7 linked regions of the Homo sapiens genome follow. The protein of the gene in region 3 interacts with the protein of the main gene of each other region in a biochemical or structural test. Each region holds a gene or a part of one and is shown on either strand. Other genes may lie near its edges. The genes, in order: PALS1, PATJ, ABCC4, PPP1R9A, RIMS2, GRID2IP and SYNPO2L.

Region 1 (3,500 bases), on a different chromosome or scaffold from region 3:
TTAGCTGTAGGTCATTTTGTGCATTCTGTTAAGGAGGTTAAGGAGGTTTTCTTCTGTTCCTAGGTTACTGAGGGTTTGTTTTTTAAATCATGAATAGATGTTGAATTTTATCATATGCCTTTTCTGCATGTATTGAGATGATTGTGTGAACTTTTTTCTTTAATCTGTTAATATGGTGAATTACACTGATTTTTCAAATGTTGAACCATATTTGCATGTTTCTGGGACTAACTCTGGGGTTATTTTAAACAAAAATCATTTTGGATTTTTAAAAACTAATATACATTAACATTTATTCTTAAAAATGAAGGAGCAATGTCACATGCCTGTAGCCCCAGCCAATTGGGAGGCTGAGGTGGGAGGGTCGCTTGAGCCCAGGAGTTTGAGTCCAGCTGAGCAACATAACAAGATCTCTTTTCTTAAAAAAAAAAGGAAACCAAATATAAGATTTTGTGAACTAAAATACTTAATGAAGTCAGTAGAGTCAAGGTATTCATTAACAGTTACCTACCTACATTTTACATTTTAGTAGGACTTAAATTTTCTTGATTATGATATAACATTATAAAAATTAAAACATTTGGCTTTCTGTCTCATATAATTTTATAGTTTCTTCTTCAGTTAATAGTCTCAAACACCCTCAAAGACGTTGAAATTTTGAGGCCTCCAGGGTTCTTGGCATTTTGCTTCTTTAAGGCAGGGGTCAACAACTTTCGGTAAGTATTTTAGCTTCGTGGGCCATATTGTCTCTGTTGCAAGTACTCAGTTCTGTTGTTAGAGTGGCAGAGGTAGCCAAACAAATGAGCATGACTTTTCCAATAAAACTTTACTTATAAAAATAAGGTGTGCCTGATTTGACCTCTGGACTTAGTTTACATACCAACATTTTTATTTTATTTTTTTGAGATAGAGATGGGGTCTCACTGTGTTGCTCAGGCTGGTCTCGAACTCCATGACCCAAGTGATCCTCCCAAGTTGGCCTCCTAAAGTGCTGGGATTACAGGCATGAGCCACCACGCCTGGCCTACATACCAATTTTTTTTTTTGAGACCAAGTCTCACTCTGTCCCCCAGGCTGGAGTGCAATGGCATGATCTCAGCTCACTGCAACCTCTGCCTCCCGGGTTCAAGTTATTTTCCCTCCTCAGCCTCCCGAGTAGCTGGGATTACAGGCACCCGCCATCATGCCTGGCTAATTTTTGTATTTTTGTGGAGATGGGGCTTCACCATATTGGCCAGGCTGGTCTTGAACTCCTGACCTCAGGTGATTTGCACGTCTCGGCCTCCCAAAGTGCTGGGATTACAGGCGTGGGCCACCATGCTTGGCCTCATACCAATGTTTTAAGGCAAAAAATCAGCAGGAGAAATGACAGTAATTGTAGTAATGTAGTAAAAGGAAGCTTGGGGTATTTATTTCATGCTGTAATTCTAGGCCAAGCCTCACTTTTCTCACCTATGACATGTAGCCACCTTGAAAGATGATTGAAAAATTCAAGCTGAGATATGGAAAGCACCTAGCAAAATATCTGACACATAGCAGATACTTAATAAATATTCACTTATTCACTTTTTGTTTCAAGACTGCACAGTGCTTTGTCACAAACCAACAGATGTGAAATAATTAAGGAGAGTCAGGTTTTTACAGTTTGTAGTATATCTAATAAGTTCAAATATTAGAAATTTTAATTATGTGTCTATAGTTATCTTTTGAGTTATGCTTTTTTGATATAAATCATAATTGGCTTCACAATTTGAGAAACTTCACACAAAAAGTTGAGGATTTTGTGTGAAAACATTATATTTTGAGAGTTTTACATTGTCACAGAAAAGGTTTGAGAATGTAACTTAAAATACATTATTTTGTTTTGATGTAAGAAGTAGGCAATCTGTATTTTGCTTGTGTGTTTTAGAAGTGCCTTTAAGACTGCATTCGTTTAACGTGATTGCTTCCTATGAATGTAGTGAGCTAGGTGCTCTGCTAGGACTTGGTTGTACTTAGAGTATCCATATTTAGATACTCATTTTTGTGTTATGTTTGAAATGTAAGTAACGCTTCGGAAAGTCTTTTTTTCTGAGTTTCTATCAAGATAAAGCTGTTCTATTTTGTTTTTTATGAAGCTGGTTGAGATTCACTAGAGCGATTTTATGGCACACAAATGGGTCACATCCTACAACTTGAAAACCATTGATGTAGATAGACGAAAGTAACCCTTCTCCAAGAGGCTGTGTTCATAATTTCATTTAAAATTCAGCCACCCACTCTTCCTTCCTCCAGGAACGTTCCATACCCTCCTACTGGCAATAAGTTTTAGTTCTTAAAATTTTAGTAAAGTATGCATTAACAATTTATTCTTTTTTGTAACTCATCTGTAAATTATCGAGAGCTGTGACTACTGTTTGATGTTCATTTATGCTCAGAAGTACTAGACACTCAAATATTTACTGACCAAAAAAATCTGGAAGAAAATAAGTTATGTGTTAAACAGTGGTTCTTCTGTCTTAGTATTGGAAATCACATTGCCTCACATTGAAAACTGTATAAACTCCAGTTTATGTGTACTGGACATGCAGATTTAACTGTCTAATATTAAACAAAAAATTCTAGTTAAACAGATTGTTTTGTGATTCTGATAGTCATCTGGGCCCTTCCTCTGAAACACACACACTGTTCATACAATATGCAGGGATTCATGGAAATAAAGTCATGAACCCCAGATACAGGTCTCTGATCCAGGTGATTCATCGACTGTATAAATGACCTGCAAATGTTTTTCACAATAATGATTTGCATAAGGGTAATCAGTACATACTTAGAGTTAACGAAAATAAATTTCATAGTTTTTGTAGGCATCCTAAAGGAATCTTATCCTTCTGTTTTTTATACCTTATCCTTTTATACTTAAAATTTATAGCAAGATTGATAGTTCATTTGACCAAATCACAATACTTTCTGCTTTCCCCTCTTATCCAGAATTGTATCCCTCGCTGTGTCTCTTAATGTGTTATGCTGTATGCTGTATCCTTTGTATGTATTTCTTAAATATTAACAACTACATTTCAAGTTCTTTGTCAGCATTCTTCTTTTTACAAATGAGGAAATTGAGGCTCAGAGAGATTAAATATTTTTTCCATAGTCCTATTATAAGTGATAGAAAGGAGTTGAATTAATTTTATTTGATCCCAAAGCCCTTGGCTTTTCTGCTTTGTCTGTAATATAGCCTGCCTTAAGACTTATTTTAACATTGTCTTTTTGGTAAGATTAGAAACTTTTTGATGAAAGCCATTTTCCACTTTACCTAGTGTTTAAAAATGTACGTGAGGCTGGCGCAGTGGCTCATGCCTGAAATCCCAGTATTTTGGAGGCCGAGGCAGGAGGACCGCTTGAGCCCAGGAGTTTGAGACCAACCTGGGCAACACAGTGGGACCCTGTCTCTACAAAAAATACGAAAATTAGCTGGACTTGGTGGTGTGTGCCTGTGGTCCCAGCTACTCAGGAGGCTA
Region 2 (2,968 bases), on a different chromosome or scaffold from region 3:
CCTGCCTCAGCCTCCCGAGTAGCTGGGATTACAGGCATGCATCACCACACTGGGTTTATTTTTGTTTTTTTAGTAGAGATGGAGCTTCCCCATGTGGGCCAGGCTGGTCTTGAACTTCTGACCTCAGGTGATCTGCCTGCCTTGGCCTCCCAAAGTGCTGGGATTCCAGGCGTGAGCCACTGCGCCCAGCCCAGTATTCTGATTTTAACCAACTGGTTCTGATTATATTTACCAAAACTGGAGTTAACTTCTCTTTCCTTATACTCTTCTCTCCCTATCCCCTACTCACACCGAGGCTTAACAGCAACCTCAGATCTCATCCAATGGACAGAAACAAATGTTAAGCAACTTGTCATCTCACTCATGATTTACTTATGCTAATTGTCTCTTCAAGTAAGCAAGAAAACATTAGCAGTGTAATTAATTTACCAGTGATCCCCAAGATGAAATACCAGATTCTCCTATGGGAAATTACTGTGCTGTCTTCTGTATGACTTATGGTCAAATAAGTCTCAAATTCATTTCTCTGGATAGATCTTTATATGCTAGTCATTGGTGATTTTGATGAGTCAATTTACAGACTGTAATCTTCTAAAAATTCTGAAAGACTAATTGTTTTCTGTGCCATATAAATGCATACCACTGAGCAAATGAACCTTATTCTCAGCAGGAACAACTAGCATACATGTTCTGAATTCTAACAGTGCTAAATTACATTCAAGTCCAGGAAGATCACCTGGAATTAATGGCATTTCAGTTGGCAGGCATCATTCCCACCCCTCGGTCTTAGGAAAAGGAGGTAGAAGCCCCAGAACCACACGGCAGAGATCAGCAAGTTTTGTCTCAAGTCAGACAAGGTCTAGGTGGCCTTGGCCTTATGCAAAGTGGGTGACATATTTGATTATATTTCCCTTTACCTCCATAGTAGTCAGGCCAGCAGCATGGACTGCAAGAACCTAAGGGAGCAACATACTTAGCTGCAAAGTGAGCAAATGAATTGAGCCTAGGAATATGTGATGAAAATGCATGGCTGATGTTTCCTGATCTCCAAGGAGACTCCCATTTGCTGAAGTTTTGCATGCTAAGAAATCAACTACAGCAGAAAATACAAGAATACCTTTAAGTTGATTATTGGCAATCTTATTCATATATTAGCAAGAAAAAGGGAGAGATGCTTACTGGTGGATGCTATAGAGTCCTCTGTTTTTAAAAGTACCATGGCCGGGTGCAGTGGCTCACGCCTGTAATCCCAGCACTTTGGGAGGCCAGGGCAGGCGAATCATGAGGTCAGGAGTTCGAGACCAGCCTGGCCAATATGGTGAAACCCTGTCTCTACTAAAAATACAAAAATTAGCTGGGTGCAGTGGCAGGCGCCTGTAATCCCAGCTACTCCGGAGGTTGAAGCAGGAAAATTGCTTGAACCTGGGAGGTGGAGGTTGCAGTGAGCCAAGTTCGTGCCACTCCACTCCAGCCTGGGTGACAGAGCAAGACTCTGTCTCGAAAAAGAAAAAAAACCATGAAGGATGAGTACTAGAGTCAGTAATAGAAGTAGTTCAGCATTATTTAACTACAACACAATGCTGCAAATATTTCACAGTAATTATCAAAATTTAATGGGCTCTAATTTAAAATGTTATTTAATAAGTATAGATTTTAATTGAGAATTATCTTTGAGTAGATGTAATCACAAAGTGCATTAACTCTTGTTGGAATATTTTATGGCTATTCCAAAGTATAGAGTGCCTAAATTTTGTGTTGAAAATGTCTTTCATGACGGTATTAAGTTTTCTGAAATTACACATGGCTTTTAAAATTTCTAATGTATCCAAGATGTGCAATGTTGTTAGGATCTCATTCTTCAGTGCATGAAAAGCTACTACCCTCAGAACATTTTGTGTTAATTGTACCTGCAAGAACACCTCAGGCAAGCCAAGAAGAAATGAAACCCAAATAAAACTTGAAAATGCACCTTAAAAATATATATACATATAATAGTTTTGAAATGGGATTCTGCTTTATTTTGATGGAATGGCCATTAAATACACATTTTGAGATAATACATTGTTGTGGTGTTTCTTTATACATTATCCTTTTAGGTCGTGCTAGTAAAAGTATATTGATGAAGGAATTATGATGCTTTATACTTCTTACTGCACTAAATTGATAGAACTAGTACTTGTCATAATCGGTTCTGTCTCCGCTCACATGACTAATACGTAATTGCCTTTCCAAAAAGATATTTTTGCCTCAGAACTTACTGACAAGCTGAGAGGCTATGAAGATGGAAATTTGTGAAAGAAGTAGTGCTCTTATATTTGGCCTCATCATTTGGGCCATTTCAGTATAGTAATGATATCACTAATCGGAATTAGCATGAGAGGGAAGTAAGCCAGGAAGAATAAAACTGCTGAATGTTTGTATGTGTAAGATATTTCCAAAGATTCTAAATAAATGTAGTTGCCTACAGAGCAAATGGAGTTTTATTATATATGAAAAAGTGTACTTTCTGGATCTAATTGTGCTTTTTCTTCAGCATTTTCTTCCCTAATAGAAAAAAAAAAAAAGTCCAACTTTTCACAAGGTTTTTTGGTGTCCTGTTAAAATCTGGAATCCATGGTGGCTCACGCCTGTAATCCCAACACGTTAGGAGGCCGAGGCAGATGGATCACCTAGGTCAGGAGTTCAAGACCAGCCTGGCCAACATGGCAAAACCCTGTCTCTACTAAAAATACAAAAATTAGGATGGGCGCAGTGGCTCAGGATCCATGCCGCCATGCCCAGCCAACCTCTAATGTTTCTTTCCTGGCCCTTTCATGCATGTGCAGGTGAGTATTTGACAAAGAGGCGATCTCCATGGCTCTGTCAACCTACAGCTCCCTCCTTTCCAGACACTACATGTTCTAGCCAACTTGGCTGGCCTCCCTGAACGTGAATCTCTTTCTCCTCTACTCGTGGACTCTGTGTGAGT
Region 3 (3,500 bases):
AAATCACAGATTATTAGTCATCCAAAATTGCTTACCGGAGAGCAACGGCTTTAATGCAGGGGCAGGAGTGGGGGTGGTTCTTGTCCCAGTGCAATTTTAATCAAAAGGGTGGGGTGGGCCTGACAGTCTGCATTTCTAACATGTTTCCAAGCAGAGGCAGGTGATGCTGATCCCAGCCCCTGAGATGAGCAAGCAGGCAGGGCAAGTGGGACAATCTGGCTGTGAGAGGAGGGGTTTCTCAGCAAACATTAATGTAAAAAAGGAGAGAATATAAGAAACTAATATTTTTGCACACTATAGCAAGGTCTAGTACACATCTGTAAAAAGGTATTATCCAAGTAATAGCTTTGAGCAAGGAAAAAAAAATAACAAACCAAAATCAATCTACCTCTAGAGCTGAAAAATGCTTTAAAATGGCCCAGTACTCTCTAAAATGATTAAATCAACCACAAAACCATCTAAATGAAAAATGCAGCCAGTGTTTGGAATCTAACCAGGAAGGCTAGGGTGGTATATACCTCATTTTGGTTCATTCTTTTTTACTTGCTATTTCTTCTGTGAATTAGAAACCTACTTAGCGCCTATTACTTTTTCCTATTTGTTATAATGTCCAGGAAATCTGAGCAGATGAAGCAATTGAAAGAGAATGAAGCCCTGTTTCTGCTGTGTGGACACATTCCTACATCTCCACTGGAAACAATGCCCCTCTCCATCAGCTCCAACAGCAAAGGGACTGCCTGAGATCCTGGGGCTGCAGGCAGGTGTGGAGGAGACGAACCCTGAATATACACACAAAAAGTGGAACCAACTCACCACGATGTTGCCTGAATACACAAATGAAGCTAAAGGTGACACTGTGAGTGAACCAGGACACAAATCAAAAGCCAAGTGGGGCTCAGCGCAGTGGCTCATGCCTGTAATCCCAGCACTTTGGGAGGTCGAGGCAGGTGGATTGCTTGAGGTCGGGGTTCAAGACCAGCCTGACCAACATGGTGAAACCCCGGATCCACTAAATATACAAAAATTAGCCAGGCATGGCAGCGGGTGCCTGTAATTGCAGCTACTCGGGAGGCTGAGGCAGGAGAATCGCTTGAACCTGAGAGGCAGAATGAGCCAAGATTGCGCCACTGCACTCCAGCCTAGATGACACAGCGAGACTCTGTCTCAAAAGCCAAGTGGTTGTAGCTATAATTCAGTCTTCAAATTCAATTTACCCTCCCACATTTCAGATCTCAGGTAATCCTATGATTTGGGGGGGTTTTAAGATGGAACGATATCAATGTGGGGATATAGGTTGTTTTCTAATGTGTACAACAGAGGTTTGTAGATAATTCATATTTTATGGCTACAAGAGAAATTTACAACGTGGCCAAACTAACAGAATGATGTTGATCAGGTAGGACCTAATAACACATTGTCTGAGAGTAAGCAAACATCCCCCTGGCCCCATCAGGAACAGAATCTGAGAAACCTTGCTTTCAGCAAGAGCTACAGCTGATGCTGCCTGCAGAGTGGTCTCCACCTTCTTCACACTCACAAGGATGCTGGGTAGATAATGAGGAATCAGCTTTTGCTGGTTCCCTGGGTATCTTCTGGGCATGAAGCTGTATATTTATTTTTCATGGCACAAGGGTATCATTCATTCAATTGTGACTATAGCCCATTAAATGGGTCTGTGGTGGGAAGAGCTGAAAAGAGCAGTTCCGAAAGTATCTAACACTGACACCCAGAGAACGGGCTGTTGCGGGAGCTGTCGTGTGTGTTTTGTTACCGATTTCTTTGTATGTGCATATCCCTCACTCTCACAGGCACCCACCATGTGCCCTGCAGCATGCCATTTTCTGGGGGTACAGAGACGAATATAAAATGCTCCCTGACTTTAAGAGGCTCAGGGTACTGTGAGATGCTGACCCAGAATTATAAATCATGCCATCGTGCTATCTTCTTTAAAAAAAAATTGTGGTAAAATACACAAAAGGTACTTTATGTACTTTTCAAATTGTGGTAAAGTAACATAAAATTGATCATTGTAATCACTTGAAAATGTTCAGTTCAATTATATTAAATACATTCATGTTGTTGGGCAACCGTCACCATCATCCATCTCTAAAACTCCATTTATCTTGTAAAACTGAAACTCTGTACCCATTAAACACTAATGCCCATTCCCCTACCCCTGCCGCCCACCATCCTACTTTCTGTCTCCATGACTAACTACTCCAGGTACCCACATGTAAGTGGAACCTTATAGCACCGTCCTTAGGTGTCTGGCCTAATTCACTCAGCATAATGTCCTCAGGGCTCATCCATGTCAGAATCACACATGTCAGCATGTGTCAGAATCACCTTCTTTTTAAGTCTGGATAATATTCCATTATGCGTGCGTATCACATTTTGTTTTTCCATTCCTCAGTCAATGGACACTTGGGCTGCTTCCACCTACTGCTCACTGCAAATAATGCTGTTATGAACACGGGTGGGCCACAGATGTTACATTAAAGAATCTGGCCAGGCATGGTGGCTCATGCCTGTAATCCCAGGCATGATTTGGGAGGTTAAGGTGGGCGGATCACTTTAGCTCAGGAGTTCGAGACCAGCCATGGCCAACATGGCAAAACCTGGTCTCTACTAAAAATTCAAAAATGAGTTGGGTATGGTGGTGCACACCTATAATCCCAGCTACGGGGGAGGTTGAAGCAGGAAAATCGCTTGAACCTGGGAGGTGGAGGTTGCAGTGTGCCGGGAATGTGACATTGCACTCCAGCCTGGGCGACAGAGCAAGACTCTGTCTCGAAAAAAGAATCTATAAGATGATGTGGAGAATATAGTTTCAAAGAGGCAGAGATGCTTGAACTGACTGAAAAGGGTGCACACTAAGAGCAAGGCAGACAGGTGCTTGGGGAGAAGGAGGGCACCCTGAGTGCAGGGGATGTGTGTCCATATTGGGAGTTGTGAGGAGAGGGGTGGGAAGGGGAAGAGATTCTACTGTCTTGTTTGTTCTGGTTTAGTTCCTTCAAGAGGCTGTCCTAGTCCTAGCCAAGGGCCCCAGGACACATGTGAAAGGGACATTGCTGGCAGACTTAGATACCTGCAAAACCAGCTCACAAAACTCCACACAGCCTCCCAAGTCCCTCCTTGTTTTCCTTTCACTGACTTTGAGTGAGTCTCTGGTGCCTTTACTGCCTCCAGCTTGGGGGTCTGATTTCTGAGCACTGATGGGGTCATGGGATCTGGGTCTTCCCTTGGGGGCTGAGAGCCAGACAGGTCCTGTCAGGGTGGGCCTGGGGCTCATTAAGGTTGCAGCAGCTGCTCACCCAGGCAAGGAGCTGGCCACGTAAGGATCAGATCTGTGATCAAACTGTTTCAGAAAGAAAGAGTTTGCAGTGAAAGGGATGGGGAGGGAAAGCAAAGCACAGGTTAAAGGAAGGCAAGAAAGACTAAGGAAAGGGCCTGATAATGTTTGGCTGTGTCCCCACCCAAATCTCATCTTAAATTCCCAC
Region 4 (3,500 bases), on a different chromosome or scaffold from region 3:
TGGACAAGACAATCTTGAATGTCAACAAGGTACTTAAATGCAAAATGATTATCCTTTTAGACTTAATACAATGCACTAGCATTGTGGGTAGCCAGGCAAAAAATCTGAAGTATCACATAAATATATTTGATATTTCTGAAGTATCACATAGATATATTTGTGCTGAATTTAGATAAACACTTATTGAAATGGTTCATGTGGCCATAATTCTGCAATTAAGAACCAATGGATATGCCCAAGGCTAGATGGAGGCTATAATTGGAGTAAGACCAATATAAACTAATTGTGCAATTTTTCTTCCATCTCAATTCTTGGCATATCACTTTAGCTCAAAGATACTGACCACTGATTTTGGTTAACAATAGAAGAGGGGGCCAGAAAGTTTAGGTATAGAAATACACGTGTTCTTAATCACACAACCGTACCTGCTACCTGCAGAAAACCTACTGGCTTCTTTTTCTTTTTCTTTCCACTTCTTTCCCTTGCTGGAATTCCTTCGCAAAGGCGCCCTGTAATGATAGTAAGCAGTCAGAAAGGGGAAGCTGAAATTTTCTCTTTCAATCCTCCTTTTACAGAGGGCTTTCTTTTTACATCGTGAAGTGCTTACCCCAGATCCACAAACTTCCGCTTAATTTTTCCTCCTTGCACCGCCAATGAACTGGATGCCCTTAGTGATTTGGGATCTTTGGCATCATCTAGGATATACACATTTGTGAAAAAGATCAATTATTATTATTTTTAAAGTCACAATTCAAAAGTCAATGCATCTCTGAATCTAAGGGCTTTGCCTAAATTCCTAATTGTAAAATAAATAATCAATGCCTTCTTATACGACCTAGGAGACACAGTTACATTGAGGAACTCGCAGTTAAGCAGGGGAGGTCCTCTATAGGACAGAGGCTCAACATTCATCACAAAGAGTTTTAGCTTCAACTGCATGGGAATGAACAAGGGAGAATAAATACTCTCAAATCATCCTCTGCATTCGAAGTAGGGACCAACATGACTTTTGTTCCTTCTCTGGCTCCAAATTCTTGGCTTCAAGTGCCTGGGCTCTGTCCTCCATTCCTTTCTTGCCTTGGGGTTGTAGTGCCTTCTAACAGGAACATAGCCCACTTCTCCCGTATCTCCAAAGCCCAGCGCAGAATATCACCTCTGAGAGTCTGGGAGATTTAGGGGGAAAGTCAGAGTCAAAGTTTTCTTCTCTGGCTCTCCTTTGCTAATGGCCTGTGGCCGGTCCTGGAACAGAGGAGGGGAGGACATGGGGGAGACTCCTTAAACAGGGGCTCAGCTACAAAACATTTATATCTTTGAAAGGGCCTTCTTAATAGTTAGGTTACAGCAAAACTTGGCTGGTTCCCCTTAATGTGGAAGATGCCAAAATCTCCTCAGTGTTCAGAGCAGACTGATCTTTGCCTCTAGGACTCTCAAAGGTAGCAGCTGCTGGGGAATGGGGACCCTCGAAATGATACCAAAAGCCAATAGGAAGACAGGCTTTGCAAATGGAGTTCAATGTCAAGGTGGGAACCAATTCCACTGGTGGCACTTGTTCCATCTCGGACAGGCTCTACCCAAACTATTCAGCAGAGGGTACTGATCGGCATCACGTTTCAGCATATCCAATTAGCTCAGATGATTAACAAATGCTGTTTTAAATTTGATGTTTTTTATGTGTGAAACTCTTCCTCCCCAGTTCTTTTTTGGTATCTGTTTTTCTGTCTCTTATCTTTTAAAATGTGTTTTAAATTTCTAGGAACTTTCTAGTATGGAAGGCAAAGAGAATGGCCCTCTTAAAAAAGTGTTCAATTAACTTTGCAGGTTAATGTTGCTCATGATTTTTGTTTACTTCAAGAGAAATTTCTCAACACACATCGACATACACCTTTAAAAAACATGAAGTACACACACAGTTCATGGATAGCAGTCTAGGTTCAAAGCTCTCAAGCAGCACAGGACACTGACAAATACTCCAAATGTTTTTAGCAATGAGCTTTTCATATTTTTAGTTAATGATACTTAGATTACAATAAGCAACTCACTGAAATGTACATAATGAAACACAAGAGTCAGAAATATGTCTGTGTCAAAAATCCACTTCAAGCCTCAAATATTTATTATGCATATTTGCATCATTACTCTTTGGGTAACTGAATTGTCACAGATGTGACACAATCATATAAAAAAATCCATAGACATAGACATGGCACAAACACCTTCTAAGGTGATTTTACTAATGGATTTTATTTTTAAAAGCAAGATTTAAATTTTCTTAATAGAAGCTGAAGAAAAGAAAGTGCCAAATTCTTCCAGATCAATCCTAAAGCAACTCTTAATGGCTAGGACTATGCAAAGTTAAAAGGAGACTGCCTAATTATTTCCTGAATGAGAGGTAGCTGGGAGATGTTACAATGAGCGCTGAGAAGACCAGCTGAGGCAATGTACACGAAAACACTCTGTAACCCATGAGTGTTGCAGTTATTTGGACATCATGCGACTAAAAGCCTGATTCTGCCTATCACAGAGCTTGGTGCTAGGCAACCTTACATCTTTATCTCACACATTTGCCAAAGTGCGTTCCCAGGAACACTGAAATGAATGCTTCCATAGGGCTGAAGATGTTAAGAATAAGGAATAATGTACTTTCCCATTTAAAATCGATTAAATCCATCTTTAATGCACACTAGAACTTCTAGTCTGCATAAAATCCAACATTAGATTGGTATGATTTCAGGAAAAAAGAAACATACATTTTGTTTATTTAGCTCTACGTAAGACTTCTGTTAGGCTTTTTAAAATCTCTCCAATACTACCTTTGTGACCAATTATACATCTGAGCCCCCAGATTGGGTGCCTCAACTTTAAGCTGTGGCAACCTGGTTTTCATTTTCAAATAATAAATGATCTCCTGATGGCCAAATCCTAAGGTCTTGTACTGGACTGCATCTCCTTAATCTCACTGTAATAAGATACTTGACTATCTCTTCCTTTATAATGGGGACTCCCAAATCTACCTGGCAGTCCTGACCTCTCTCTTGCGCTCATGACCTCCTCTGTTAAAAAAATGAGTTAATCCTATTTCCCCCATCATGTTGCTGATTTCCTATTTTCTGTTAATGACAAGACCATATGTTCTGAGGCGTGAAGCCCATGATAGTTTTGCCTCACTTTCTTACCTGTTACCTAGTCAAGGTATGTCTCAAGGGTCCTTGAATCATTCTTTCCTGTCACTGTCTACTGCTCCTCTTTAGAGGGCACCACCTCATAGGGTCTCCTAACTCAGCTTCTCCATACCTGGTGGTGTCTTTTCCTTTTTATTCCTCTGGTCAAACTTCTTGTGGTTTCCTAGTAATATGGCAAGTTATCTAAGATGTTTAACTTCTAAAGCTATATACTTAACCTACTGGCTCACTTTTGTGTGTAACTACTCCACCCTGCATAAGCAAACTGCTACAGCCAGGCTGGGATAGCCTTGTACCTTTAAATCATATGATATGTGCCTG
Region 5 (3,500 bases), on a different chromosome or scaffold from region 3:
AAGTACCAGAAAGAGGCCTCTAGGAGGTAAGAACAGCCCTCAGCTGAATAGCCAACAAGAATCTCGGTCCTATAACTTAAAGAACGTAATTCTTTCAACAACCCAAATGAGCAAGGAAACAATCCTCCTTTAGTTTCTAGAAAGAAATGCGGCCCTACCTACACCTAGATTTTGGCCCAGTGAGAAAAATAAGTGTGCTAATAGAAGTATTAATTAATTCTTTCAGATTGAAGACTGTTTTATGTGTGATAAAACAGATTTTCATCTATGTGCCTGGGAAGCAAACTATTATAAAAATGATAACAGATACCAAATATGCCAACAAAACAAGATGAATGTGAGCACCACCTCCATCTGTCAACTGAACAATACCAAAGCACCAAACACCATTGTGGTTATTCTGCTACCCAGTTATATTGTTTAGTGTATCCTTTTCCCCTAGTTTTAGCCTCCCAGAAGCCTAGTTACAGGATACAAGAAACTACCAAACTATTTGTCTCTTCGAGCTGAACATAAGCTTGATTGGAAGAAAAAAATGCTAAAGGGCATTCCTCCTGTGCCTTAAAGGAGCATTTATCCAGTTCCTCTGTTTAGCAGAACCTATCAAAGTATTTGTATTATATAAAAATACTAAATGTTTATAACCATGTAACTATACAAAAGTTGTTAATTCCAAATGCCTTAAAAAGCATTTAGCTAGCACTATATTGTACAAAAAGTAAGAGTTTTGACAGGTATATATAATATAGATATGTGTTCATAATATATAAACTGTATTAAAGTTGTTAGTTCTTGACCAATTAATTTATACTATCTAGTTGTCTTCAATTTTGTAGGTTACCCGTATTAGAAAGAAAGTAGGTAAAATAATATATTACTCCTGTGTAAACCTTTTCTTAACTTTCCCCTTTCCATAACTCTACCTCAATTCCTATTTCTGGAGCTTCCCATCACAAAACCCAATAAAATTTATCTCCCTTTTATAATACAAGCACTTTCTGAAATTCTGCAATAATTCAGTAAGCTAATATAAAGATGCACAGAATCTTCACCAACTTCCACATGTCATTTCCATAACTAATCTCCTCTCTATATTTTCCTAAAATACACTCATATTTCCAAAATTCCCTTAGAGGTGATACAGAAATATATACAGGGAAGGAAATTTGTCCTTGCTAAGCCTAACATATAAAACAAAGATTGTGTGATAGTTTAAAATACACAAAGAATGAAATAAAACCAGAGGGTGAGAAATTCATTGAGACTAAGTTATCAATGGGAGTAGGGAATATTCAGTAAAAGGATGATAGTCCTGAAGTTCTGAAAAGATTACATGGTGTGAATATACCCAGTAGAAAAAATTTTATAAGCTATTAAGAAGGGTTCCTTCTAATTATGAATGGATTCCAAGAGCCCTAATCTTACTTTCTCCCCTTTGTTCTTTGTCCTTTCTTTTCTTCTTTGTCCCTTTTGGTCCTTTTTACTACCATCCCATTATACCAAGTTATAGTCACTTCTATTACTCATATTAATGCTACAAACTCTCTAGAATAACTAAAACAATAAAATAAGCCACTTCACAACTGCTCCCTCAAGAGAACACTGGTCCTAGGACCAGATGACTTCACAGAGCTAACTATAAGTGAGATAAGCAGATACAGGCAGATATATATTATGTACAGTAGTCAGTTACGCAAGTCTGGCATCATAAGAGTTTACCTGACCCTTAACACACAGCTGTCAAATCCTGGCAATTTTGGCTCCTCAATTTTTCAAAAATTTGTCTTGACTCTCCACCTCCACCTCTACTGCCTTATTTCATGTCTTCATCATTTATTACCTGGATTACTGTAAGAATCTCCTAAATAGTGCCTTTATCTCTAGTATTACACCTTCTAACCAATCTATTAAATGAGAGTGGTTTTTGTTCCAACAGAAGTCTAATTATATTGTGTCACTGCTTAAAATCCCTCCATGACTCCCTATTGCCAAATCCAAAGAATAGCATAGAAGGCTTTTTAGGCTCTGAACCTTGCCATCTCTCCAGTCTCCTCTATTGACGCATCACCATTTAAATCTGTGCTCTTCTGAACCACTTCAAGCAAACTTCTTGACCATGTCCTGCATCGTCTTCTTTTTTTTTTTTTTTTTTAACAAATGAAAGGTTTTGGGGGCAAAGAGGAATTGGGAGTTTTAAGATTTTTGCTTAGAGAACAATCTGCCCAGCTAACATCTACTCATCATTTGAGATTCAGCCTAGATGGCATCTTCCCAGGACTGAATCACGTGCTCCTCTTGTAAAATATATCCATGATACACTGTAGTGCACAGTAGTCTCCTGGTACTTACCATGCAAAATTTTCATGTGGTTTATCACGTTTCTTACAATGAGCTCCTTAAGAATTACCTGATAATGGTTAAAATTATTTCAACTCCCAGAGATATCTGTATTTCATTAGGTGACTAGAGAATACAAAAGTTTTTAATATCTAGCAGTGAAACTTTCAGATATTTTAACAGGAAAAACTATGTGACACCATGTAATATAACACAATATAATCAAACAATACCATAGAGGCAATAAACTACTAGTAAGATTAGTCTGACATATTTTTTACCATGGTTATAATGTACTAAAAACACCTTTACAGTATTTTTTCATGACACTTTACATTTTTATGTGTTCATATGATTATGGTTGGCCTTAGATTATCTGTCCCTGGAGGGCATGAACTATTTCTATCCAAAGCCTTCTGTGTACTCTTTATCACTCATCTGTGCTAAACACAATGGAAATGTATCAATTCTCTTAAAGGATCACTTTTACAGCCAAATTTTCCCTAATTCCTAATATTCCTTAAATTTAAAAATGATATCTATCACAATGTTCTTCTAGTTTCTAGTCAAAAAAGATATGCTCTTAGTCCAAAAGAAAGATAAGCTGCAATCATACACAAACACTGTAAGTTTCCTTCCATGTAAAATAAGCAAAATTAGGCATGTTTAAAAATTACATTTGATTTCAAAAATAAGGACACTACTACATAAGCAAATCTTTTTTTAAGATTATTGGAGTTCACCTTGAAAGTTTGTACCACCTAGATGAACATAATATTTCATTCCCAATGTGCGTTCATTCACCCGATTAATATTTTTGAGTACTACTATGTGTAAGGCATTGTATTACATTAGAAGTTGAAGCTGCATTAGTGAACAAAACAGACATGGTGTGTGCTCTCTTTGAGTTGATAATCTAGCAGAGTGGACAGACCATAAACAAGTAAATAAATCATTATAAATTTTGATAAGCATAATTGGGGAAATATAAAAGGTATTGTTATAAAGAATAATGGAGAGAATCTACATAAGAAAGAGTGGTCAGAAAAGAGCTCTCTAAAGATCCAAATTTGAAGCTAAGCCAGAAGGATGAGAAACCGGCAATCATACAAAGCTTAAGTGTATTTGAGGGGCGATGTGAAGATCAGCATTCTAAGCTCAAT
Region 6 (3,500 bases), on a different chromosome or scaffold from region 3:
GGGACTACAGGCATATGCAACCATGCCCAGCTAATTTTGTATTTTTTTTGTTAGAGATGGGGCCTCACTATGTTGCCAGGCTGGTCTCAAACTCCTGGGCTCCATTGATCCTCCTGCCTCGGCCTCCCAAAGTGCTGGGATTACAGGCACGACCCACGGTACCCAGGCTACTTTCTTGATCCACAGCTGAGGTGAGGGTCACAGGGCCATGGGAGGGACTGGGACAACCCTGACCCTGATGGAGCAGAGAAGCAGCTCCAGGGCTGAGCCTGGGGTGGAGGGAAACACCCAGACAGTAGATGACAGAGGCTGGAGCCCTACCTGTGGTGACTGCTGGGCTGGGGCCTGGAGGGGAAGCCCGGGATTTGGACACGGTCCCCATCTTCCCTTTGAAGCTGCTGTTCAGTCGAGACTCAAGCTCTGCATAGACGGCTGACATCTGGAGGGAGACGGGGGAGAGTCCAGCCCATTCTGCTTCCCCTCGTAGCCCTAATGTGGTCCAGGCCTGGGTGGGCCGGGAGGCAGGGATATGCCCCAGCCTGAAGCAGCACAGGGACGCCTTGGCCTGGGTCTCCTGGGCCCAGTCCTATGGACCGTCCATTCCCTGCCCCCTACTGACCCCACGTGGAGGGCAGAGAAGGTCTCACCATCTTGGGGTTGGGGGTCTCAGGGAGGGACGTGCCGTCGCCTGCCTGGCGCTCGCCTGGGATCAGGGGAAGAGGCATCTCAGGGCACTCGCTGGGACCTACCGGGGAATAATGTCATTACCGTATCTGAGCTCTACGGCTCAGGCCCCGGCCCAGAACCAACATGCCCCGCAGACCCAGGAGGGCCAATCCTGAGCCCTGCTTAGCCCCATTCCCTGGGATTCCCCACCTCACCAAGCCCATTTTGCAGGTGGGAAAACTGAGCTCCATTCATACCCTCCCCCTGACACCAGCCTTACCGCAGCTGAGGCCGGCCTCCAGGCCCTGGGACCGGAGGCTGCGGCGGCACATGGAGGAAGCCCGCAGGGAGCTCCGCGGCTGGGGCTCAGGCGTGGGCTCGGACTCCAGGTCCAGCTCAGGCTCCGGCTCTGCTGTGGGACATGCAGGGAACATGGGGCCCTCTTGCCCTCTCAGCCAGACAAGGGACCTCCAAAACAGGGAGGGGAGGGCAGATGTCATCTGCACCAATATGCAGACCCCAAGCTACGGGGCCTGCCCTGCTTGCCTCCAGAACAGCTCTTGAGGGGAAGCCCCAGGGCAAGAAACCAGGTGCCAGGAGCAGCACCAGAATGCAGCACCAGAATGCAGCTAGCCTGAACTCAGGGGCCTAGCAGAGATCTCATGACAACAGCTTCCAGAGTCTCAACGCCCTGTGCTTGCCCCAGGCCAAGTCACTGCTGCCCAGAGAGGATTATGGGCAAAATAGAAGTGTTTTTTTTTTGAGACTGAGTTTTGCTCTTGTTGCCCAGGTGGGAGTGCAGTGGTGCAATCTCAGCTCACTGCAACCTCCACCTCCCAGGTTCAAGCGATTCTCCTGCCTCAGCCTCCCAAGTAGCTGGGATTACAGGTGTCCGTCACCATGCCTGGCTAATTTTTGTATTTTTAGTAGAGATATGGTTTCAACATGTGGGCTAGGCTGGTCTCAAGTTCCTGACCTCAGGTGATCCGCCTGCCTCGGCCTCCCAAAGTGCTGGGATTACAGGTGTGAGCCACTGCTCCCGGCCAAAATAGAAGTTTTTTGAGCCTACGCAGATATGTAAGGCATGTGTGGTCCAGCATGGATCCTGAGCTTCTCGCTAAAACCCTAGCAAATTGTGGGTCCCTGGGACTGCAGCTCATGGGCACACAAGGACCAGCAACTCTGCAGCGGCCCCTTCCCTTTCCTTCCTTTCCTTTCCTTCCTTCTCTTCCTTCTCTCACTTTCTCTCTTTCTCTCTTTTCTCTCTCTCTGTCTCTTTCTCTCTTTCTCTCTTTATTTATTCAGAGTCTGGCTTTCTCATCCAGGTTGGAGTGCAGTGGCACAATCTCAGCTCACTGCAACCTCCACCTCCCAGGTTCAAATGATTCTCGAGCCTCAGCTTCCCAAGTAGCTGGGACCACAGGCATGCACCACCATGCCTGGCTAAATTTTTGTATTTTTTTTTTTTAAGCAGAGATGGGGTTTCACCATATTGGACAGGCTGGTCTTCAACTCCTAACCTCAGGTGATCCACCTGCCTCAGCCTCTGAAAGTGCTGGGATTACAGATGTGAGCCACCACACCTGCCTTTTTTTCTTTTCTTCTTTTTTTTTTTTTTTTTTGTGACAGGTCTCACTCTGTCCCCCAGGCTGGAGTGCAATCAAGGCTCAGTGCAGCCTTGAATCCCAGGCTCAACAGATCCTCCTGCCTGAGCCTCCCCTGCAGCTGGGATTACAGGTGTGTGCCACCACACCCAGCTAATTTCAAATTTTTTTGCTATGTTGCCCAGGCTGGTCTCCAACTCCTGAGCTCAAGTGCTCCTCCCACCTCATCCTCCCAAGTAGCTGGGACTACAGGTGCATACCACCACGCCTGGCTAATTTTTTATTTTTTTTTTCTTTGAGATGGAGTCTCACCGTGTTGCCCAGGTTGGAGTGTAGTGGTGCGATCTCAGCTCACTGCAACCTCCGTCTCCCAGGTTCAAGCAATTCTCCTGCCTCAGCCTCCCGAGTAGTTGGAATTACAACTGCGTACCACCACACCTGGCTTATTTTTGTATTTTTAGTACAGATGAGGTTTCCCCATGTTGGCCAGGCTTGTCTCGAACTCCTGACCTCACGTGATTGGCCTGCCTCAGCTCCACAAAGTGCTGGGATTACAGACGTGAGTCACCGCGCACGGCCACCCCTGGCTGATTTTTAAATATTTTGAATATATGGGGGTCTTGTTGTGTTGCCCAAGCTGGACTTGGAACTCCTGACCTCAAGTGATCCACCCACCTCAGCCTACCAAAGTGCTGGGATTACAAGAGTGAACCACTGCACCTGCAGCGGCTTTCATAGCAGGTGCAGGATGCCTAGAACAGGGTAGAACACAGGCTTCGGCACACCTTCCATCCACATGACCTGCATGCTGAGTGCAGGGGTTTGTGGGCATTCGGAGGGCACGCTGAACAGACAGGTGGCAGCCACACATGGCACTGCAGGCCTGTGTGTGTGCAAGAAAGAGTACACTGGGAGCCCACCAGCCAGGTGGGATGTGGTCGTGTGCTCATGATCCTGGTGGTGGTGTTGGCATGTCTGGCAACCACGTGAGTTTCTTTCTTTTTTCTTTTTTTCTTTCCTTTTTTTTTTTCTGGAGGCAGTAGCTTGATCATAGCTCACTGCAGCCTTGATCTCCTGCACTCAAGCCATCTTCCCACCTCAGCCTCCTAAGTAGCCGGGACTACAGGTGTGCATCACACCTGGCTAAATTAAAACTTTTTTTTTTTTTGGTAGAGACAGGCTCTTGCTATGTTGCCCAGGCTAATCTTGAGCTCCTGAGCTCAAGTGATG
Region 7 (3,500 bases), on a different chromosome or scaffold from region 3:
AACTGTAGGCGTACTTTCTCCTATTTACTTTTCTCTCTCATTCACATATACCCCAGCTTACATACAGCTCCATTCACATACACTTATGTAAATACACATGTGTGCACATCAAAACACCATCACTCAAATACATTCACACACCTACATGCTCTAGGTGGCCCTTCTTCCCAGAGACCTCCCTGCAGAGACCCTGTTACTAACAGTTTAGACAGAAGTTAAAGTTGATCTCGGCCTTCCAACTGCCAGGGCAGTCCTCTGGGCTTCACACCCCTGCTACTCACAGTCAGGGGTAGTCTCCATCCAAGATGCAGGAAAAGTTAGAGTGTTGTTCTCCAAGGCAACACTCCAAATCTTTAGGATACCTCAAGGTCGCCAGCTAAATATATTATTTACCCCAAGCTGGGGATGGTAGTGGGGTGGGCTTCTTCAGGGGTCAGAACTGTCTCTACGTAGAGAGCTCAGGCAGCCACTGCCAGCCAGGCACACAAAGACTATGTGCTAAAGGGAACCAGGGCAGGGCTTTCCATGCCATGTGGGGCCTGGGTAGGTGGGGCCAGGAAATGGGAGGGCTACCCTGCTGCGAGGACCCCGCCTTGCACATGGATACTCTCTGGTCCATGGTCCCCAGTTCCTCCTGAAAAATTATTGAGATTCCATCTACTTTCCACTCAAGGTACCATGCTCCTTTGTAATGAGCTCCTTTGTAATGAGCTTTGTAATGAGCTCCTTTGTAATGAGCGTGGTATCTTGAGTGGAAAGTAGATGGAACTTTTTCATTTTTGTCATTCCTCTCATCCCAGTGTTTATACCACAGAATAGTGGTATGGATGAGACAACAGGCCCTAGAGTCAGAGTTCAGTTCAGGTTTTTGGTTTCTGGGATAGTTACCTCACCTCATTAAAGTTCGGTTTCCTCATCTGTAAATGAGGGTAGACAATGGCTACCTCATAGGATTGCTATAAGGATTAACTGAGATAATATAGTAAATTTAGCACTTAACACAGTGTGAAGGCCCACTATAACCATTACTATTGAAGTCTTCTTGACACTATACTTTCTTGATATATATGGATACTTTCTTGTTCACACATATCTTCTCCCATGACTCACACATACATGCCTTCATGTATTCATAATGTACTCACACACGCTCTGTTCCCATGAGTTTTCTACAGCTCTTGTGGTCAGAAACCCCTTTGACATGTGACCACAGCATCACTGAGAAAGGGGCAGTGAAACTCTCCTGAGAAAAGGAGGAAGAGGACAGCAAAAAGGAACAAGAGAGTAAGACCTTTCCCAAAGACTACCCTTCCTAAACTATTGACATCTTCCCCTCCATTCTAGACCCCAGACTCTCATAGATATGGGAGGGTAGTACCTGCATAGAACGAGTCTTGGAGCTCAGGAACTGGGTCTGGGGCTTTGTCATAGCTGGCTTGGCTGAGGGGCTCTTGGCTGATGGGCTCAAAGGTCTCCATGCTGAGAAAGGCGGTGTTGGCTGGAGCAGGACCAGCTTGAGCCACCCCCCACGCCTTTTAAAGCCCCTTTGTCTTGTCCCCAGAGCTGGCAGCTGAATGAGCTCACTGTGCTATTTTTGGAGCCTGGCCCTCTCCCTTCTCTGGGCTGCCCCACAAGTGCCGGTGTGATGGATGTGGGCACCTGCCTTCCCTTCCCCCAACCCCACCCCAGTAGACAATGAGGTCTGCTTGACTAAAAATATCTCTGAGCCAGTAGCTACAGTCTCATCCAGCATTATGGGAAGGGAGGGGGAGATAAGTGGAGAATTGAGGAAAGCATAGGATCCTAGGCACGCATCTGGAATTCCTGGGATATTGGACACTCAGGGATGTCAGACTCTCAACTCTCATGTCCTTAGCCTCCACTCCAAACTGAGAGACACAAAGTTCTATAGATCAGGAATCAAAATGGTGGAGGAGAGGGAAGAAATATAACTAGAGGGGGAATCATGAGATTTTGGAGGTAACAAGAACGGTCTCTGTGGGAAAGCACGGGAGGCATAGAGCAGGGAGAACGTTTACCCTTAGACCTTGTTCTGTAGCTCACATCAAAAATAGCAAAGCCTGAGATAAGTGGAATGGGCTTTTTCTGCCCAGGCCAACATTCTTGCCTGAGATAAGGAGCCAAAGCTCCCTCCCTCTGCCACTTCCTCGGGATCTCATGATCATCCCATAGCCTCTCAGTCCCCAGGAATCCGAACTGAACTTGCAAATGTCAAAGGTGCCTGCTATTAATACTATAAAGAATCCTTTGGCCAATGGCTCACGCCTGCAATCCCAGCACTTTGGGAGGCCGAGGCGGGTGGATCACAAGGTCAGGAGTTCGAGACCAGCCTGGCCAACATAGTGAAACGCCGTCTCTACTAAAAATACAAAAAATTAGCCAGGTGTAGTGGCGGGCACCTGTAATCCCAGCTACTCGGGAGGCTGAGGCAGGAGAATTGCTTGAACCCAGGAGGTGGAGGGTGCAGTGAACCAAGATTGCACTCCAGCCCGGGTGACAGTGCAAGACTCTATCTCAAAAAAAAAAAAAAAAAAAAAAAACCAGAAAAAAAAAAGAACCCCTGTAGCTTTGACCCACTTTTATTTATTAATTTTTATTATTTATTTATTTATTTATTTTTAAGACAGGGTCTTGGTCTGTTGCTCACGCTGGAGTGCAGTGGCGCAAACATGGCTCACTGCAGCCCAAACCTCTCAGGCTCAAGCAATCCTCTTGCCTCAGCCTCCCAAGTAGCTGGGACCATAGACATGTGCCACAGTGTTTGGCTAATTTTAAAATTTTTACTGGAGACGAAGTCTCACGATGTTGTCCAGGCTGGTCTCAAACTCCTGGCTTCTGCCGGGCATGGTGGCTCACGCCTGTAATCCCAGCACTTTGGGAGGCCGAGGTAGGCATATCACCTGAGGTCAGGAGTTCGAGACCAGCCTGACCAGTATGGTGAAACCCCATCTCTACTAAAAATACAAAAAATTAGCCAGGTGTGGTGGCGGGTGCCTATAATCCCAGCTACTCGGGAGGCAGAGGCTGGAGAATCGCTTGAACCCGGGAGGCGGAGGTTGCAATGAGCCAAGATCACGCCATTGCATTCCAGCCTAGGCACAAGAGCCAAACTCCATCTCAAAAAAACAAAAAACAAAACAAAACAAAAATCCTGCGTTCATGCTATCCTCCCACCTCAGCCTCCCAAAGTGCTTGGATTACAGGTATGAGCCACCTTGCCCCGCCTTCAACCTGCTTTTAAATACTCCCCTGTCCTGTGTCTGTACTCTGCTTTCACCCAATCATGACACACAATAACAATTATCACCACCACCAAACCCTTCATCTATTTGTGTCCCTTTCCAATTTCCCTACTTACCCTGTTCCTGGGTTGAACTGAATCACCTTACCCTTTTGCCACATTGGTTCAAACAGCAAAAATAATGGTGGCCATGAGAATAATTATGCTCCCCTTCTACTCATTACCCCTCCTGTCCCCA

Evidence for each region.
Region 1: the proteins of ABCC4 (region 3) and PALS1 interact in a test that uses a peptide from one of them, tested with the Homo sapiens proteins (one large-scale study listed by IntAct).
Region 2: the proteins of ABCC4 (region 3) and PATJ interact in a test that uses a peptide from one of them, tested with the Homo sapiens proteins (one large-scale study listed by IntAct).
Region 4: the proteins of ABCC4 (region 3) and PPP1R9A interact in a test that uses a peptide from one of them, tested with the Homo sapiens proteins (one large-scale study listed by IntAct).
Region 5: the proteins of ABCC4 (region 3) and RIMS2 interact in a test that uses a peptide from one of them, tested with the Homo sapiens proteins (one large-scale study listed by IntAct).
Region 6: the proteins of ABCC4 (region 3) and GRID2IP interact in a test that uses a peptide from one of them, tested with the Homo sapiens proteins (one large-scale study listed by IntAct).
Region 7: the proteins of ABCC4 (region 3) and SYNPO2L interact in a test that uses a peptide from one of them, tested with the Homo sapiens proteins (one large-scale study listed by IntAct).

Annotation. Positions count from the first base shown.
Region 1 is NC_000014.9:67,247,935-67,251,434, forward strand, and holds part of PALS1 (protein PALS1), read left to right. Parts: intron 1-3,500. UniProt on the Homo sapiens protein: Plays a role in tight junction biogenesis and in the establishment of cell polarity in epithelial cells.
Region 2 is NC_000001.11:62,161,448-62,164,415, forward strand, and holds the end of PATJ (inaD-like protein), read left to right. Parts: 3' UTR 1-2,468; downstream 2,469-2,968.
Region 3 is NC_000013.11:95,067,452-95,070,951, forward strand, and holds part of ABCC4 (ATP-binding cassette sub-family C member 4), read right to left. Parts: intron 1-3,500. UniProt on the Homo sapiens protein: ATP-dependent transporter of the ATP-binding cassette (ABC) family that actively extrudes physiological compounds and xenobiotics from cells.
Region 4 is NC_000007.14:95,271,094-95,274,593, reverse strand, and holds part of PPP1R9A (neurabin-1), read right to left. Parts: intron 696-3,500; coding exon 608-695; intron 510-607; coding exon 426-509; intron 1-425. UniProt on the Homo sapiens protein: Binds to actin filaments (F-actin) and shows cross-linking activity. Binds along the sides of the F-actin. May be involved in neurite formation. Inhibits protein phosphatase 1-alpha activity.
Region 5 is NC_000008.11:103,507,110-103,510,609, reverse strand, and holds part of RIMS2 (regulating synaptic membrane exocytosis protein 2), read right to left. Parts: intron 1-3,500. UniProt on the Homo sapiens protein: Rab effector involved in exocytosis. May act as scaffold protein. Plays a role in dendrite formation by melanocytes.
Region 6 is NC_000007.14:6,509,962-6,513,461, forward strand, and holds part of GRID2IP (delphilin), read right to left. Parts: intron 1,079-3,500; coding exon 947-1,078; intron 746-946; coding exon 648-745; intron 440-647; coding exon 322-439; intron 192-321; exon of another isoform or gene 55-191; intron 1-54.
Region 7 is NC_000010.11:73,649,530-73,653,029, forward strand, and holds part of SYNPO2L (synaptopodin 2-like protein), read right to left. Parts: intron 1,512-3,500; exon of another isoform or gene 1,479-1,511; coding exon of another isoform or gene 1,379-1,478; intron 1-1,378. UniProt on the Homo sapiens protein: Actin-associated protein that may play a role in modulating actin-based shape.